Linked DNA regions of Homo sapiens: region 2 is linked to region 1. The links come from fine-mapping of genetic effects on gene expression. A gene starts in region 1. The other region holds a variant in brackets. All regions are shown on one strand. Distances are from middle to middle.

Region 1 (8,331 bases):
GGAAGAATTCAACTGAGGGGTATAAAGCAGAAAGAGAGACTGAGGCAACTTTAAAGGAGGAGTGAAAGTTTATTAAAAAGCTTTAGATCTGGAACAAAAGGAAAGTACACTTGGAAGATGGCCAAGCAGGTAACTTTAGAGATCAAGTGCACGGTTTGACCTTTGACTTAGGGTTTTATACATTGGCATACTTCTGGAGTCTTGCATCCCTTGATTCTTCAGGGATCAGTCTTATCCCCTGATTCTTCCCTTGGGGTAGGCTGTCCACATGCACAGTGACTTGCCAGCGCTTGGAAAGTGAGCAGGGGCAGTGTGTTTATTGGAAGTGTACACATGCTCACTTGAGGCAATCTTCCCTTACCAGCCTCATGTTCCTAGAAGGTCATATACCAGTCAAACGTTGCCATTTTGCCTCTCGATGTGTGGCAAAGAGATCTTACCAGGAAGCTGCTGACCACCACTTTCAGGTTTTTTCTATCTACTGGGAGACTGCCTTTCCCTGGCACTGACTGCAACCAATTATTATTTTAGAGAAACAGTGTAACAACTTCCTGACCATCACCTGATGGTCACACAACATTTCTGGTGGTGTGGGTTGTGGGGGAAGAGTCCTCTCCTGCCCTGCTCAGGCCGACTAGCTACCTACTGTAAGACAACCAGAGTTTCCCAATCAGTACAAACCTGGAGAACAGGTCACAGGCAAAGAGACACAACCTGTCAGACCTCAGGGCAGTCCAGGGGCCACCAGGGCCCCTCTGGAGCTCTGCTCCTTCCTGTGAAGGCTTTCTCCCCCACCCCCCAGGGTTCCTTACCAATAGCATTTGTTATTGAGTCTAAGATGCTGTGGCTCGTAACATGCAACTTTGTTTTAGGTACCACTAAGGGTAAAAACACTACCAATTAAATGATACCACAATGTGCTCTTTCAACTTAAAATTTTCATTTTATACTTCCAAGAAATAATTCTTTAGGCTTAAGACATACGACATAAGTTTTTAACTATATAGCACTTTTGCACATACATAAAAAGGAAGTTACTCATGAAATTAATCAGTTAGGTATCCTTAAACCTTTAAGAACGTGAGTGATGTGCTATCTCTTTAAAGAGTAACCCAGTATTAATTTCAGGATTCTCTTCTAAACTGCTGGCACCCACTTGGAAGTTTGGATGTGAATGCAAGACAATGGCAAGCATATCATGACTGCAGCCTGGCCAACAATTATCCTATTACCGGTGTTGAAATGTGTGTATGGAGTGGGGAATGCAAGACCAATGTATGCTATGTGCATCTCCATGTGTGCCCTGATGCACAGAGTTGCGCAGCACTGAGTTAGACAACAAATAGAGAAGCCAAGGTGGCGGTGGTGAGTTTGGAGTTCAGTGGAGGGGCAGAAAGAGAGAAATTAAGTTGCAGATGTGGCACCCATAAGCGTCTGCAGGTGGTGGTGGTGGTGAGTCTGGAGTTCAGGGGAGGAGCAGAAATAGAGAAATGAGGTTGCAGATTTGGCACCTGTAAGCATCTGCATGATAGTCGTCCACAGGCTGCATGTGACTATCTATGGGAAGTCTAGATAGAGAAGAAGGCCAATGCTGAGCCTTGCGATACTCAAATGTTTATAAATCTAGAAGAGGGCGAACTGCCAAGCTGACAGAGTGAGCAGCCAGGGTGGCCAGAGAACTGGAGGGTAAGGCAGTGATGTGGCACCTCCGGAGCAAAGGAGGAGGGGGACGGCCAGCTGCATCAAGTGCTGCTAAGAGCTCAAATAGAATGAAAGTAGAAAATGACCATTGGATCTGGCAGCACATAGGTTATAAGTGACTTCCACAAAAGGACCTCCCATGGTTGAGGGCAGTGCAGCAGAACTTGATGAAAACCAGACAAACTGGACTGGAGGGAGTGACAAGAGATGAGGAGCTCAGCCTCCCTGAACAGTTTTGTTGTCAAAGGGAAAAGTACAGCCAAGCGAGGGGTGGTGTTTCCTTCGCTAAAGAGATTAGGCCTGTCTGAATGCGAATCCAGCAAGGCATTGCGGAAGTTAACAGCAGTTGCAAAACACTGGGGCAGGCGGGAAGAACACGATCCAAGGCACGAGAGCCAGGGGTCAGCCACGGCAACAGGAAGATGATGGTGAAAACCAAAAGTTTCTGAGAGTGGTCTCAATTTAGGAAGTTTATTTTGCCAAGGTTAAGGACGTGCATTGACACAACCTCAGGAGGTTCTGATGACATGTGCCCAGGGTGGCCAGGAAACATCTTGGTTTTATACATTTGAGGGAGACATGAGACATCAATCAATACGTAAGATGTAGGTTGGCTCTTTAGGAGGTAAAATGTGAAGTGGAGGCGTCCGGGTCATAGGTACATTTAAAGGTTTTCTGATTGGCAACTGGTTGAGAGTTATCATCTAAAGACCTGGACTCAGTAGAAGGGAATGTCCGGGTTGCATGAAGGAGTTGTGGAGACCAAGGTGTTATCATGCAGATGAAGCCGGGAATACACTGCAAATGTTTCTTATCAGAGTCCTCTATTAGTCTTAGGGTCTCCGTGCGGATGTTTGTGAGGCCATGTTTGACTTCCGCTTCCCATCAAGGCCTGAACTAGTTTTTCAAGATAACTTAGAAGGCCACAGGCGGAGGGGAGGGTCCATCCGTTGGCTGCAGGGCTTAGAATTTTATTTTTGGTTCATAACGAGGAGGGCAGGGACAGAAGCCACCGTCTCTGCTCCCCAGCGCTGGCCCTCACTCGGAAAGCAGGCTCTCCCCTCGCATCGTCTTTTAACAAATTCCTGCTCTCTCGGCCCCCGTCGCTGCCATCTGGGCTCTCCTTTCCGCGCTTCATTAGGCGCTGCCGCGGCAGGGGCTGAGGGCCTCAGGGGACGGTCGCCTCCCTGCCGGGACGCCCCGGCCCTGGCCCGCACTGTGGGGCGCAGTCACCCAGCCGTCGCCGCGTAGCCAGGAGCCCGGCTGAGCGCGTTCGCTGCAGGAGCCATCCTCAGCTGGGCCCTACTTAACTTTCCGCAACTCCAGTCCCCGCAGCCAGTCGGGGACCCCGCCTCCCTCTCCTTCCTTCTCCCTCTCACTTCTTCACCCCTTCTCTCCCCTCCCTCCTCCGCCCCCGCCCCCGCCCCCGCCCCCGCCCCCGGCCACAGCATCCGACGTGGCGCGGCCGGCTGCGCACGCACCGTATGCTTGGCTCGCGGCCCAGCAGGGCGGGCGGGCCGCGGTGACGTCAGTGCGCATGCCGTCGGTGGGCTCGGCTGCGCCACGTCGGCGCGCGGCGGCCGCGCCCCCTTAACGGCAGTGGCACTCACCCGGCTCGCGCGGCCCCGGCGCCCCACGCGCGCGCGTCGTTCTCCCGCCCGCTCGCTCCCCGGCGCTCACACCTGAGCTCACTCGCGCACGCCCGCCCGGCCCGAGAACCGCGCCGCCGCCTCGGCCCCGCGGAAGCCCCGCCGCGTCATGTCTTCGCCTCCCGAAGGGAAACTAGAGACTAAAGCTGGACACCCGCCCGCCGGTACTGACTCTTTTCCTCTCTCTCCACGCGCGGGTGCCGGGGGCGGGCTCGAACCCGGGGGCGCCGGGCGGGGGCTCCGCGGGGAGGGCCCCGGCGAGCGCTGAGACGGGTTCCGGGCCTTGATGCCCGCCCGAGGGGCGCGGGCCGCGGAGAGGTCGGGCGCCCAGGCCCGGGAGGAGCCCGCCGGAGCTTCGGCCCCGCTTGCCGGCGGCGGCGAAGCGTTTCTTCCTGAGGACCGCGGGCGGCCGCGTACCTGTGCGATTGCGCGCAGGCTCCGGTGCCTTGGGCGAACCCAGTTGCACAACTTATAACAAAGTTTTGGCGGATAATATTTACTTAGAGGATACAGATGTCTAGAAAGAAAGTAGCAGAAGCAATGAAAAGTCAGTGGTGTTAATATCATGGTGATGATTAATTAGAGGCTGCCAGCGTTTCATACCGACTCAAGAACCAAGGAGCGGAAATAATTTTTATCATTAATCACTCAATATGACTTTCACCGCCAGTTTCTTCCACATCCAGATTTTTTTTTTCCCCCAAAGTTGCTTTTTCTGATTTTGAGCAAATCCTAAACTTCTGAGCCAAGGAAGTTAAAGCCAGGAAAGAGCGGTCTTTCTTAGAACATAGGGATCTAAGCAGCCTTCATGCTTCTGCCACCTCCTCCTCTCTCTGGGCACAGTTCCTGTTTGCACTTTGGATTCTGTCCAGACGGGTCTGTTTCCGTTTCTACTCTCCTTTCCAGTGGCAGTCGGCCCATATGGAGGGACACTGGTGAGAAGATCAAAGGCCTTGGGTCTCAGAAGCCAAGTCACTTCAATGTATGGATGCGTGAGGTTCTTTTAGGTCTTAATAGCACGCCTTAGTGTCATAAACTCAGTCTTGTAGGAACAGAAGTCTTTGAGAAACATGGCTTCTTTTGGTGGCACATTTGCGCCATTTTCTTGACAATAAAGATTCCTGGCCAGGCGCGGTGGCTCATGCCTGTAACCCCAGCAGTTTGGGAGGCCAAGGAGGGTGGATCACTTGAGGTCAGGAGTTCAAGACTAGCCTGGATAACATGGTGAAACCCCATCTCTACTAAAAGTAGAAAAATTAGCTGGGCATGGTGGCGGGCGCCTGTAATCCCAGCTATTCAGGAGGCCGAGGCAGGAGAATGGCTTGAACCCGGGAGGCAGAAGTTGTAGTGAGCCAAGATTGAGCCAAAGCACTCCAGCCTTGGCGACAAAGCGAGCGAGACTCCATCTCAAAAAAAAAAAAAAAAAAAAAAAAGATTCCCATTATCCTTCTCTGCTGTCCTCCGCTATAGGGCGGGAATTCTCTGCACCAGCACAATGAATAGGAGCCGTTCTTTAAATATGTTGCAGTCCAGAGTAGGCAATATTTTTCAGTGGTGACGGAGGCTCTCTACAACAAAACTAACTGGCACTGGGAAAGAAAAATGTCTAACTGATGCCAGAGAACTTAAGAGGCATGGGGTTTTAGAAAATCATTCCACTGTGATGGAAAATGGTTTTGGGGGAATTTGTGTTGCATTGGTTTTAAGAAAAAAAGTACTTCAAAGGGAGTTTTTTTTTTGATGGGATTTCTTTTAAGGATAACTGACTTCCATTCCACCACAGCGGGTCCCTGTCCACTGTGGGGAGGAGCGCCTTGATTTCCACCCCGGGCAGGGCTGCCTCCAGGAACTGCAGCAGCCACCTGCTCTGGCCCTCCACTCCCCAGGACATGGGTTACATTAAAGCGTATCTGTTGGAATGATACAGAACCAAAGTACAGTAATTAAATTGCATACAGAGACACACCCATAAAGAAGTTTTTTGTTTTGTTTTTTGAAACAGAGTCTCACTCTGTCACCTGGGAGTGCAGTGGCACGATCTTGGCTCACTGCAACCTCCGCCTTCTAGGTTCAAGAGATTCTCCTGCCTCAGCCTCCCGAGTAGCTGGGTTTACAGGTGCCTGCCACCACACCTGGCTGATTTTTGTATTTTTAGTAGAGACCGGATTTTGCCATGTTGGCCAGGCTGGTCTTGAACTCCTGACTTCAGGTGATCCACCCACCTCAGCCTTCCAAAGTGCCCATATGGAGATTTTTAAGGTCAGAGGTATAAACTGTACATACTCACTCCCTGGGAGAAATTCCTTGCTGGACTCTGGTTTTCTTTGAATTGCAGAGTAAACAGCTAGGCTTTGTGAATTACAGAGTAAGTAGTTTATTTACCCCTGAGGAGGGAAGAGGCAGCTTATTTGTGCTAGTGTAGCAGTGAGCTTGGGTTCTAAGTTTGAAGACATCACTTCACGCTTCACTGGGGCTCAGTTTTTCTCCTTTATGAAATTCGAGGTTTGGGCCTCGGGGCAAGTCACAGGGTGGGGCTGTGTTTGCTGCAGTGAGTCTCACGTCCCGCTTCAGCATCAGGGTACCAGCACTGTTCATCCCCCAGGTAAACTCCTCTAGTAACTTCAGGGCAACCCCTTTAGACTTACGGGGTGAGCTCTTGCGGGTGGCTGTCACCATCTGTCATCTGTCTCCAAGACCATAGTTAGAGGAGGGGCCCAATAGCAGCACCCCTCAAATGCCAGCAGCATCCCTCAAATGCCAACAGCACCCCTCAAATGCCAACAGCACCCCTCAAATGCCAACAGCACCCCTCAGATGCCAACAGCACCCCTCAAATGCGCTTTCCTAGATGTTACAGAGGACCATGTGTGAACCTTTTCTGGCAGGAAGCTCTGGTGTTCTTGTTTAGTCTGGCATTGCCAGAGAGTAGGCAGCTCTGAAGGGTAGATAGTTTTTAAAAAAAAAAAAAAAAGGCGGCCCACTACACTAAAGGATAATCATCAAGGATAGCCAAGAGCACAGTTCATAAATCAAAATCACTGCCTTAAAAATGTTGAGAATGCTTTCATTAAGTGCTTAAATTGGATAACAGACTTGTGCCTCAATGCTCAATCAGAAATAATAAAATTCTCTTACAGTGACTATCTTAATGTTCTTTTGTGTCTTCTCTTTGTTGCTGTCTGGCCCATATCTCCTGTACATTCCCCGCAATCCCCTTGTTTTCCTTCGTGCACTAACCTTCGCCTCTCTGCCTGTCTTCTTGCTTCCAGGGCTGGGTCTTCTTGATCTCTTTATTCCCGGGGTGGCACAAAATACTCAATAAGCACTCCAGAGTTTCCCCAGGGCCTCTTCTCACCCCTCACTGCCCCCATAGCAAACCGGGCCCACACCTTCCTCAACTCTGAGCTCTCTGTACTGTGCGCAGGGATGCAGGTGGTCCTCTTGGCCGGTTCAGGCAGCAGACTGGTGGAAACACTAATGAAGTTTGTTGAGTGTCACAATGTGCTGACACACTTCTAAGCGCTTGGCACGTTTAACTCATGAAATCACCAGTCATCTTAACATTGAGATACCGAGGACAGTGCCGTTTAAAAACCTGACCCAGAGCCGGGTGTCGTGGCTCACGCCTATAATCCCAGCACTTTGGGAGACCCAGGTGGGGAGAGCACCTGAGCTCAGGAGTTCAAGACTAGCCTGGCCAACATGGTGAAACCCCGTCTCTACCAAAAATACAAAATTAGTCGGGTGTGCTGGTGGGTGCCTGTAATCTCAGCTACTCTGTAGGCTGAGGCAGGAAAATCGCTTGAACCTGGGAGGCAGAGGTTGTGGTGAGCCAGGATCACACCACTGGACTCCAGCCTGGGCAAGAAGAGCGAATATTTCGTCTAAAAAAAAAAAACCTGACCCAATTGTTTGGAGTGTCTGTTGCCAACTCCCCTGAGCTAGTGACCTAGTGGGAGCGGCCGGAAAGGCTGTTGCCTTTTGGAACTTCAGCAGCCCGACAGACGACTCCATCACTGGCCAGGTGCCTCCTCCCAAGGTGGGAGACGAATGAGGCAGTTTGTAAAGGCTTCTGAAGAGTGTTAGAGAAAGGTGCTGTGCAAATACAGGTATTGTTATTTACAAGTGATGGATGGCACTGCATCATGTCCTGGCAAATGTGCTGTCGTCTGCAGTCCTCTGTAGAAGTAATCCAGCCTTAATGATTTGAGACCTTACCACTGCTCTTGACTACAAAATATTTGCAGAGAAATGGGGTGAGTGCTTGTTTGATGAGTTATTGCAAATGCAGATTAGCAGAGTTAGAATTAGCGAGATTCTTTCTGTTTCATCTAACAGCAGTCATAGCATTCCACAGCAGAAAAGAGGACCTAATTATAAGCCTCGCTATTACTCATTTCTGCCAGTCTTTGTGAGTCTGTGGCAGTGAGATGTGTAAAATCTCTTTGTTAAATACATTTTGCTGGCCCTGTTCCCCTCCATTTCCCAGTGGAGCCAAAACCATGTGTCAGTAGAGTTCTCATAAATCTGCTACATGATAGCTTTGAATGTTACTAATCTTACATGTGGTTTTCTTTGAAAAGCAGACTCTACATCCCCTCTCAAAGTGAATTAAATGGAAATATAAGCACGATTATATTTATTTCAAGCCATGTTACTTTTTTTAGTAACTTCAGAGTAACTTAGTTCTCTCTTACACTAATTGATACGTCAGACATGAGTTAAGGATGCCTTTCAAAAGTCTAGTGTAATTCTCCCTGAATTATCTCCCTGCAGAAAGACTTTCAGATTATCCATTGCTAGAAACAGAAGACTAATTTGTCTTCTATTAACCCTGTGGTCACAGATTTGCTAAGCATAGTCCCAGTGTCAACCAGTCAGGACCAGAAATTGAATGGTCCAGGTAAGAGGTCTGCCCTTGTTCCCAACATGCCAAGGAAAACAAGACCCTTTAGTTACTATCTTTTTTCAGAAGCCTTCT
Region 2 (8,331 bases), 33 kb before region 1:
ACATTTCCAACTGTACATCTCCAGTGACAAATCTGTAAGGCAAAAATAACTTTGAACAAATTTTAAACTGTTTTCAGTAAATACATTGCTCCCACAAGTTTTGATATTGCGACATGAAACTTGTGTCTGCGTGTCTTATGGGATAATGCAAATGAGTCATTACTTTGGTGTCACTGAGAATCTGACATTTTAGCATAGAAAAAAATACAATTGTAATATTGATGAAGCTAAGTAAAAACTCTGTGGTCCTAACTTTGAACTGGAAGCTTCAGGACATTCACCAGGTAAAGTTTATCTTAAACAGCAAATAAACAAACAAGTAAACAACCAAAAAAATGTTTTGTCTCTGTCTGTTGCAAGTCCTAGAATCAATGACCAGCCCAGTAACAATAAACATCCCTAGCACCCAGGTTTTATCTTGACATTGCATTTCCCATTAAAACGAATATGTGCTCCTTGGAGAGTGAGTTTTCCCAAGCCTGCGGTAGACATATATAAGAAGAGTCTGGAACTTCGTATTATGCTAGAAAGGAAGGAAGCTGCCAAAGACTGCTAGGGAGCTATCAAAAAGACTCAGAAGCCAAGAGGAAACAACCAAATGTCCATCAACCAATGGATGGATAAATACAAAGTGGTACATCCACAGAATGGAATATTAATTGGCAATTAGAAGAAATGAAATATTGATACATGCTACAATGTAGAGGACCCTTGAAAACATTTTACTAAATGAAAGCAGCCAGTCACAAAAGACCGCCTATTATATCATTCAGTGTATATGAATTGTCCAGAACAGTCTCGTCTAGAAAGTGGATTAGTGGTTGCCTAGGTCTGGGGGTGGGGTACAGGGATGGAAGAGGTAGGTGGAGGGAAATGGAGAATGACTGCTGGTGGGTACAGGGTTTCTTTCGGGGATGACAAAAATGTTCTAAAATTAATTGTGGTGATGGTTGTGCAACTCTGTGAATATACTAAAAACCATTGAATTGTGCCCTTTAAATGGGTGTTTGTACTGTATGTGAATTATATATCTCAATAAAACTGTTGAAAAATATTCAGAGGCCAAACTGCCCAAAGATGGCAAATTTGATCCTGAACCTGTCAATATGCTTACATCCCTAAGTTCACAATTATACTAAGAGGAAAAAAAAAAAATCTTGATTATCTCTGGAGAATGTCTAGAAACAAACTCATTATTATTAAAATCAGTACATGCTATGATCTGAATGTATGTATCCCCAAAAATGCATACATGGGAACCTAAGACCCAGTGTGATAACAGTATTAAGAGGTTGGCCTTTGGGAGGTGGTTAGATTGTGAGGGCTCTGCCTTCATGAATGGGATTAGAACCCTTATGAAAGGGCTCTGGGGAACTAGCCAGGCCTTTGGCCCCTCCATCTCTCCTGCCACATGAGAATACAGTATTGATCACCTCTGGCAACAAGGCTCTATCTTGGAAGCAGAGAACAGGCCCTCATCAAACAACAAAACTCTAGGTGCCTTGATCCTGGACTTCCAGCCTCCAAAATGGTGAGAAATGAGTGTGTGTTCTTTATCAATCACCCAGTCTCATGTGTATTGTTATAGCAGCCTGGAATGGGCTAAGATAGTAAGTAAACAGAAAAATCCAAGCATTTATCGTGTCTTTCCTAAATGAACTGTCCCTCAGGGTATTAAATAGGTGACTGGCAGAATCTTTTTCTTTATAGAAATAATTCAGCTAGTGAATGAAGCGTGAAGAGTTAGGCCATCACCATTTTGCAATCCCTTATGAATTAATGGATTTAGTCAATCAGGGATTGTTTCTGTGTGGCTCTCAGGCCAATGATGGAGTTTCTATAAAGAGTGGTGAAATAAAACAAAAAAGAATATACAACAGAGACCACAGGTGGTGTATTGGTCCATTCTCACACTGCTATAAGAACTGCCCGAGACTAGGTAATTAATAAAGAGAAGAGGTTTAATTGACTCACAGTTCTGCATGGCTAGGGAGGCCTCAGGAAACTTACAATCATGGTGGAAGGCAACAGGGATGCAAGGCACCTTCTTCACGAGGTGGCAGGAAGGAGAATGCCTAGTTAAGCAGGGAAGAGCCCCTTATAAAACCATCAACTCTCGTGAGAACTCACCATCATGAGAACAGCATGGGGGAACCACTCTCATGATTCAATTACCTCCACCTGGTCTCTCTCTGAACACATGGGCATTATGGGGATTACAATTCCAGATGAGATTTGAGTGGGGGCACAAAGCCTAACCATATCAGGTGGCCTGAAAAGCCAGAACATCTACCATCTGTCTCTGTACTGAAGCATCCTGCCACCTTCAGTGCTCATCCGCCATGTCCAACCTCACAAGGAGCCGCGAGGCATCCTAATGACTTTCAGCGGAAGGAAGTGCAGCCCAGCACAGAGCTACCTTGTCAGTCACCCAACACCATCACCATGGCCAGTGGTCAAAGACAAAACATAGAGATACAAAAGGCCAATGTCCTCACCTCAAAAGGGACCCGATGGAGCTGCCATGGGATCCGGCAGAAGTTGGTCTCCAGCAGAGGCCACATCCCCACCTAGCCCCGTGCCTTCCACCGTGTGTCTTCCTGATCCCTCCTCCTCCTAAGAATTCTGGCTTCATGAATCCCTCATGTAGTCTTCCCCAGCTCCAGTTCTGCTTCTGGGGAACTAAAGGCCCTTGGCATCAGAGTGAGAGGGTGCAGGGGTGGGGAGACCTTTCGGTGCCCATGGCCCCTTCACAGCATGGAGGCATCTGCCAAATTCCACCAGCGCAGCAGGTTCTGATTTCACCCCTGTCTCAGGGTCTCCAGCTTGATTTCTCCCCTCCCAGAAGTAACTTCATGGCTTTGACATCAGGGACACGGGGGCAGCCCCAGAAGTGAAGCAGGAGAACTGGCAACACTGTCAGGCAGGTTCCAGGGACATGACTCCACCCACCCTTCTCTACCGAGCAGTGGCAGCAACACGGATTCCAGAGGGACACCAACCCGTCTTACTCCCAGTGGATTTCTATCCTGCGGCACTCCTAGTTTCCTCCGCCATACACAACTTCTCCATCCATCTCAATGTGCACCACATCTGGGGAT[G/A]CCTGGGGCTCCTTATAGAACCTACTCAAGTCTTTGTCAGCAAGCCTCTCTAATGTGGCAGAGGGGAGAAAAAAGAAAGGAAAAGAAAGGAAAACAAATTATTGCTGCTTTAAGACTCATAGGAAAAAAAAAACAGGTTTCCCCACTAGATTTCACATGGCTAACAGTTTTAGCTCTCATTTCTTTCTTGCAGAAATGGAAAGAAAGGTTTTTTTTGTTTTTCCTGATTTTGTGAGAGTCTGGAGAGAGAGGCAACATTTTATTTGTCGTTTGTACATTTTAGCTCCGTGTGGGTTCCTTGTTCAACTGACGGCCCAAAGAGCCATCAGTGAGGGGGAGAGTACGCAAACCACTTTGCCTGTGATCATTTTGCAGCAGGTCTGGGCAAAACCACGCTTGCAATGTATTAATGATTTCTGCATGTTTGCAGAGCAGATGGTTTTTAAGGGTATATGTGTGCTCTTGGTGGCCTGCCCCCTGCTGAACAGTGCTGCTCAAGTTCCACCAGGCATCTCAGATTCCAGAGTAAAAAGACCTCACAAAACCTCTCCATCCAACCAGCTTTCCAAGGCAAAGCTTCTGTTGAGTTGTCTCCAGGGGTCAAATGTCTTCCATGTAAGAACACATTTCAGAATATTCAACCGGAATTCTATCTTAAGTAGACTTAGAATGTATTTTCCGATATAGCTGCAGTGTCAGGGGAGCAGCATTCTCTCTTCTATTCAGTACTTCTCCCACCCAGGGTTTCAACTTCCTGCAGGTCATCCTAGGGTTGACACAATTTGAGTCGTGTTTCCTATTTCTTTTTTTCCATAGACATAATTTTCATTTTTTGACTTATTTTTGATCCTATTTTCCAATCTGGCCTGTCATGTTCATTCCATTCGTGTTTGTGAAAATGTGCTACTTGTCTAGTCCTCCTAGATGACACGCTGAAAGGTGAGCAAGTCAAATAGGAAGGCAACTGAGTGCACACCTGAATAGAATACGGGGCAGGTCTGATCCCGGCATGAGACTTTTACAAATGATGATGGTGTTACCCTGGTGGAAGATGTCTGAGTTACTGGCGAATCCATATGGGCCTGCAGCAACCTCAATTCTTGCCTCCACAGAAGAAAGAATTTAGCCGGGCACGGTCGCTCACACCTGTAATCCCAGCACTTTGGGAGGCCCAAGCAGGTGGATCATGAGGTCAGGAGACCAAGACCATTCTCACCAACGTGGTGAAACCCCATCTCTACTAAAAATACAAAAATTAGCTGGACGTGGTGGCACATGCCTATAGTCCCAGGTACTCAGGAGGCTGAGGCAGGAGAATTGCTTGAACCCGGGAGGCAGAGGTTGCAGTGAGCCGAGATCACGTCACTGCACCCCAGCCTGAAGACAGAGCAAGACTCCATCTAAAAAAAAAAAAAAAAAGAAGAAAGAATTTGACTGAGAGGCATAAGGTAGAAAAAGAGACCAAGGAAGTTTTGGAGCAGGAGTGTAAGTTTATTTTAAAAGACTTTAGAACAGGAAAGAAAGGAAAGTAGGCTTGGAAGAAACCCAAGCGGGTGACTTGAAGAACAAGTGCGGTGTTTAACCTTGATGCTAGGGCCTTATAGGCTGCCCCTTTTCCACGATTCTTCCGTTAGGCTGGGCTGCCCACATACACAGTGCTCCCCTTACCCTTGGGAAGTGAGCACCCACAGTGTGTTTAGGAAGCTGTGCACATGCCCATCTGAGGCTTTCTTCCCTTTCCTGTGGGGTGCCCTTGGAAGGTCATACTCTGCCATTTTGTCTCTTTATGTATATGCTCAGGAAGTTGCTTCTCCCTGGTGTCTGCATTCAGTGAACACTTTAGTGCAACAGGTGTGGGCCAGCAGGAAATGGCCTCTCCCTGGCACTGGCTGCCAATTTACCATTTTTAGAGAGGCATTGTGATCGTTGCTGAACCATTACCCAACCTTCCTAGTGGATGGGAGAGCCCTCTTCTGCCCTGCTCATGCTGTCTGACTACCTGTAACAATGAGGGAGGTGAAAAGGAGGGACCCAACTAGATTGTGGCTTTAGGAAAGCATATGCCTTTCTAAAGGAGATGGCACTGTGGCTGGGTTTGAGTGATGGACGTGATTTCAACAGGTAGAAATGGGAGGGGCGTGATGGGAAATGCAAATATGTTTTTTGCAGAGGGAACAGCCTGTGCAAAGGCGAAAGGCAAGGAAGCACAGCCGTGTTCCCTGGATGGGAATCAGCCCAGTGTGAGCTGAAGCCCAGAGCATGGATGGTAAGCAAGCGGGACAGTAGAGGCAGGTCCACGCCAGATCAGAAGGGCCCTGAGAGGTGGGCCAGTGCTGCCTCACTGTTAAACAGCCAGAAGCCACTACAGAGCTTTCAGCAAGTGAGTGGCTGGATTGTACGTAGTCTGTGTTTGCCCGCGAGGCCTTCCATAACAAAGTGCCACACACCGTGTGGCTCAAACACAAATTTATGTTCTCACAGTTCTGGAGGCTGGAAGTCTAATATCAAAGCGTCACTAGGTCTTGTTTCTTCTGAGGCCTCAGTCCTCAGCTTGTAGATAGCCGTCTTCTCCCTGTGTCTTCACATGGTCTATCCCTGTGTGTGTCTGTGTCCTAATCACCTCTTACTATTAAGGACACCGGTCAGATTGGATTAGGGCTCACCTCAAAGACCTCACTTAAATTTAATTGCCTCTTTAAAGACCCTACCTGCAACTACAGTGACATTCTGAGTTACTGGGTTAGAACATCAACGTGTGCATTTGGAGCGACACAGTATTCCACCTATAACGTAGTGTATCTTTATAAAAAATGCACTTAAAGAAGACGGAGACAACAGAGAAGGAGGCAATGTTGTCATGGAGGCCACTGGAGGCTGGCAGAATGAGTCCAAGGAGAAACAATAAACAAACAGGGAATGAGGACTTCAGAGATTTTGTCAAGATGGATGTTTAGGACTTGGCACCTGATGGGTGCTTCCTGTGTGGGAGGGAAGAACTAAAGATAACTCCATTGGAACTCCACGAGTCAGCTTGAACCTGGCACAGACCTTTGCGTAACAATAGTTTATCAATAACTAGGAAGGGAAGGATGAATGGATCCATGGGAGAGCTGATTTGGGCAGGGACTAAGGTGGGAGGCACACTTGCTCTCAACAGTACTTTTGTATTGCTTGAATTAATTTATTCAACAAATCAAATTCAATTCAAAAAATCAAAAACAAAATAAAAAATAATATATAATTGCAGAACTTCAAGGAGTTTTCCATTCTGGGCTAGTTTTTCATATCACTGGACTCTCTCCCTGACCCCAGGCATGTTTGTTGAGGACCGCCTCTGAGAAATCATGCCAGAGTAGAAATTGCAGTTGTCTAAAGTGAAGTCAACTACTAGAAAGAAAAGAAGAAGGAATTCACAAGAACCACAGCAAAGCAGTTATTTATGGAGAGCAATTTGATATTAAGAGGATTAACCCTGGGCTCTTCCAGGAAGATTCAGTTATTAAGGTCCATCTCACCTCCCAACAAAGCCCAACACAAGGAGCTTCAGGTTGTTAAACTGATTGAATGAGATGACACCTACCAAGTGCTTAGTACCACACCTAGTGCAGAGTACGTGCCCAGCAAGTGTTAGCTAACATCCTGTCATGCATTACATTTTGGGGACCTCCTCGGTGAGTTACATGGAGCAGAGGGTGCAGCCATTCTTGGTCACTGCCCCACAGCTCTTCCCCCTATTACTTGCCAACAGAACCCCAGCTGTGTCCAGGGACTGGAAGGCCTTGAGCTTCTGGGGGCTGAGCTCCCCCTCTAGCCCTAGAGTGAATTGGGATTGGTCTCGGCCATTCATAGTCATTTTACTCCCCTTGTTGGTGGCTAGTTTAAGATTGTGTGATGGTTACTGTTGTGTCAACTTGACTGTGCCATGAGGCATCTGGATATTTGGGTAAACTTTATTTCTGGGTGAGTCTGTGATGGTGTTTCCAGGTGAGATTAGCATGGGAATTGGTAGACTGAGTGAAGCAGATTGCCCTCCCCAATGTGGATGGGCCTCATCCAATCTGTTGAAGGCCTGATTAGAACAAAAGGCTGAGCAAGAGAGAATTTGCTCTCTCTGCCTGCCTGACTTTGGGCTGGGACGTCTCTCTTCTGCTTTGGACTCATGCTAGAACTTAACATCATTAGCTCTCCTGAATCTCAGGCCTTTGCACTGCAGATCTGGGGACATTTCAGCCTCCATAATCATGTAAGCCAATTCTTTATTTTATATATATACACACACACACAAACACATACACACTTGAGTGTATGTACATAAATATATCTATCTCCTATTAGTTCTGTTTCTCAGGAGAACCCGGACTAATACAGCTTGGAAAGAGATCACAGTCATGGTCAAGGGCAGTGGAAGTAAGAATCTGCTGGGGAACCTCTGGGAAATTATCCCTTACTCTTAAAAAGGGACAGAGATGTTGTCATCTACATGGCATGCCTGGAATTGTCATAGCCATCTCTGCATCATGAGGGAAGCCAACCCTAAAAGGATAAATCAAGCCCACGAGGATCGCAGAGAGAGAAGGGGGGAGGAATTGAGTTTTAGAGGATTTTGTTGCACTGCTGAGTTAACCAAGCCTGGTACTGGCCTATCTCTGAACTTCTTGTGAAGGAAATAATAAATGACCTTAGCTTCTTTGTTATCTGGTCTATTACTTACAGCCAAAAGCACCCTAACTGGTAAAACATTATTTGGTTCTTGTGAAAAGCTTTGGCTCCTCATCTGGTGCACCTCTCACTGTTTTCTTCATCCAGACTTGGGGTAGAGGTTTAGGGGAGTCCCTGTGCAGAGGCCTATAAACCAGCATTCTTTCCACAAGAGCGTGTTACATATCCCTGAAGCATCTTCCTCTTGGAAAAAACTTGGGCAAACAAGTATAATTTCCTGGTGGCCAAAGCGCATGTGTTTCACACTGAATTCTTCACAAGTTGAGACTTCTGTTCTCTAGTAACTGCCCTGCTTTTGCCTGGACTCTTTTCAATGTTTTCAGCATCCTGGTGCTCATGTTTTCAGCATCCTGGTGCTCACATTTCTAAACCCCAATACAGAATTCCAACTGTGGGCTCATCAGCTTTCTCCAGACTATTTTCTTTGTGTTTGCCAAGATTCTTTTCTGAGATGAGTCAGAATGCTTTTTCTACTGATAAACAAGTCAGCCTCACTGCCCCCACAACCCTG

Evidence for each region. PIP is the estimated chance that this variant, and not a neighbour inherited with it, causes the effect.
Region 2: its variant is the best candidate, but not a certain one, in a credible set for the expression of DAP in whole blood (INTERVAL, PIP 0.75).

The regions. Positions count from the first base shown.
Region 1 is chr5:10,756,197-10,764,527 of GRCh38, reverse strand. It overlaps DAP (death associated protein), which reads left to right and starts at 3,294. Exons shown (of 4, transcript NM_004394.3): 1 at 3,294-3,514. The coding sequence starts at 3,460. It overlaps DAP-DT (DAP divergent transcript), which reads right to left and starts at 3,492. Exons shown (of 3, transcript NR_187555.1): 1 at 3,312-3,492. RefSeq lists silencers at 2,759-3,228, 3,309-3,738, 7,785-7,874 and enhancers at 2,391-3,236, 7,485-7,564.
Region 2 is chr5:10,789,204-10,797,534 of GRCh38, reverse strand. No RefSeq gene overlaps it. Among named protein-coding and RNA genes, the nearest start is that of CTD-2154B17.1, 6.3 kb to the right of the region's middle. The variant G/A (reference allele first, on the strand shown) is at 3,102.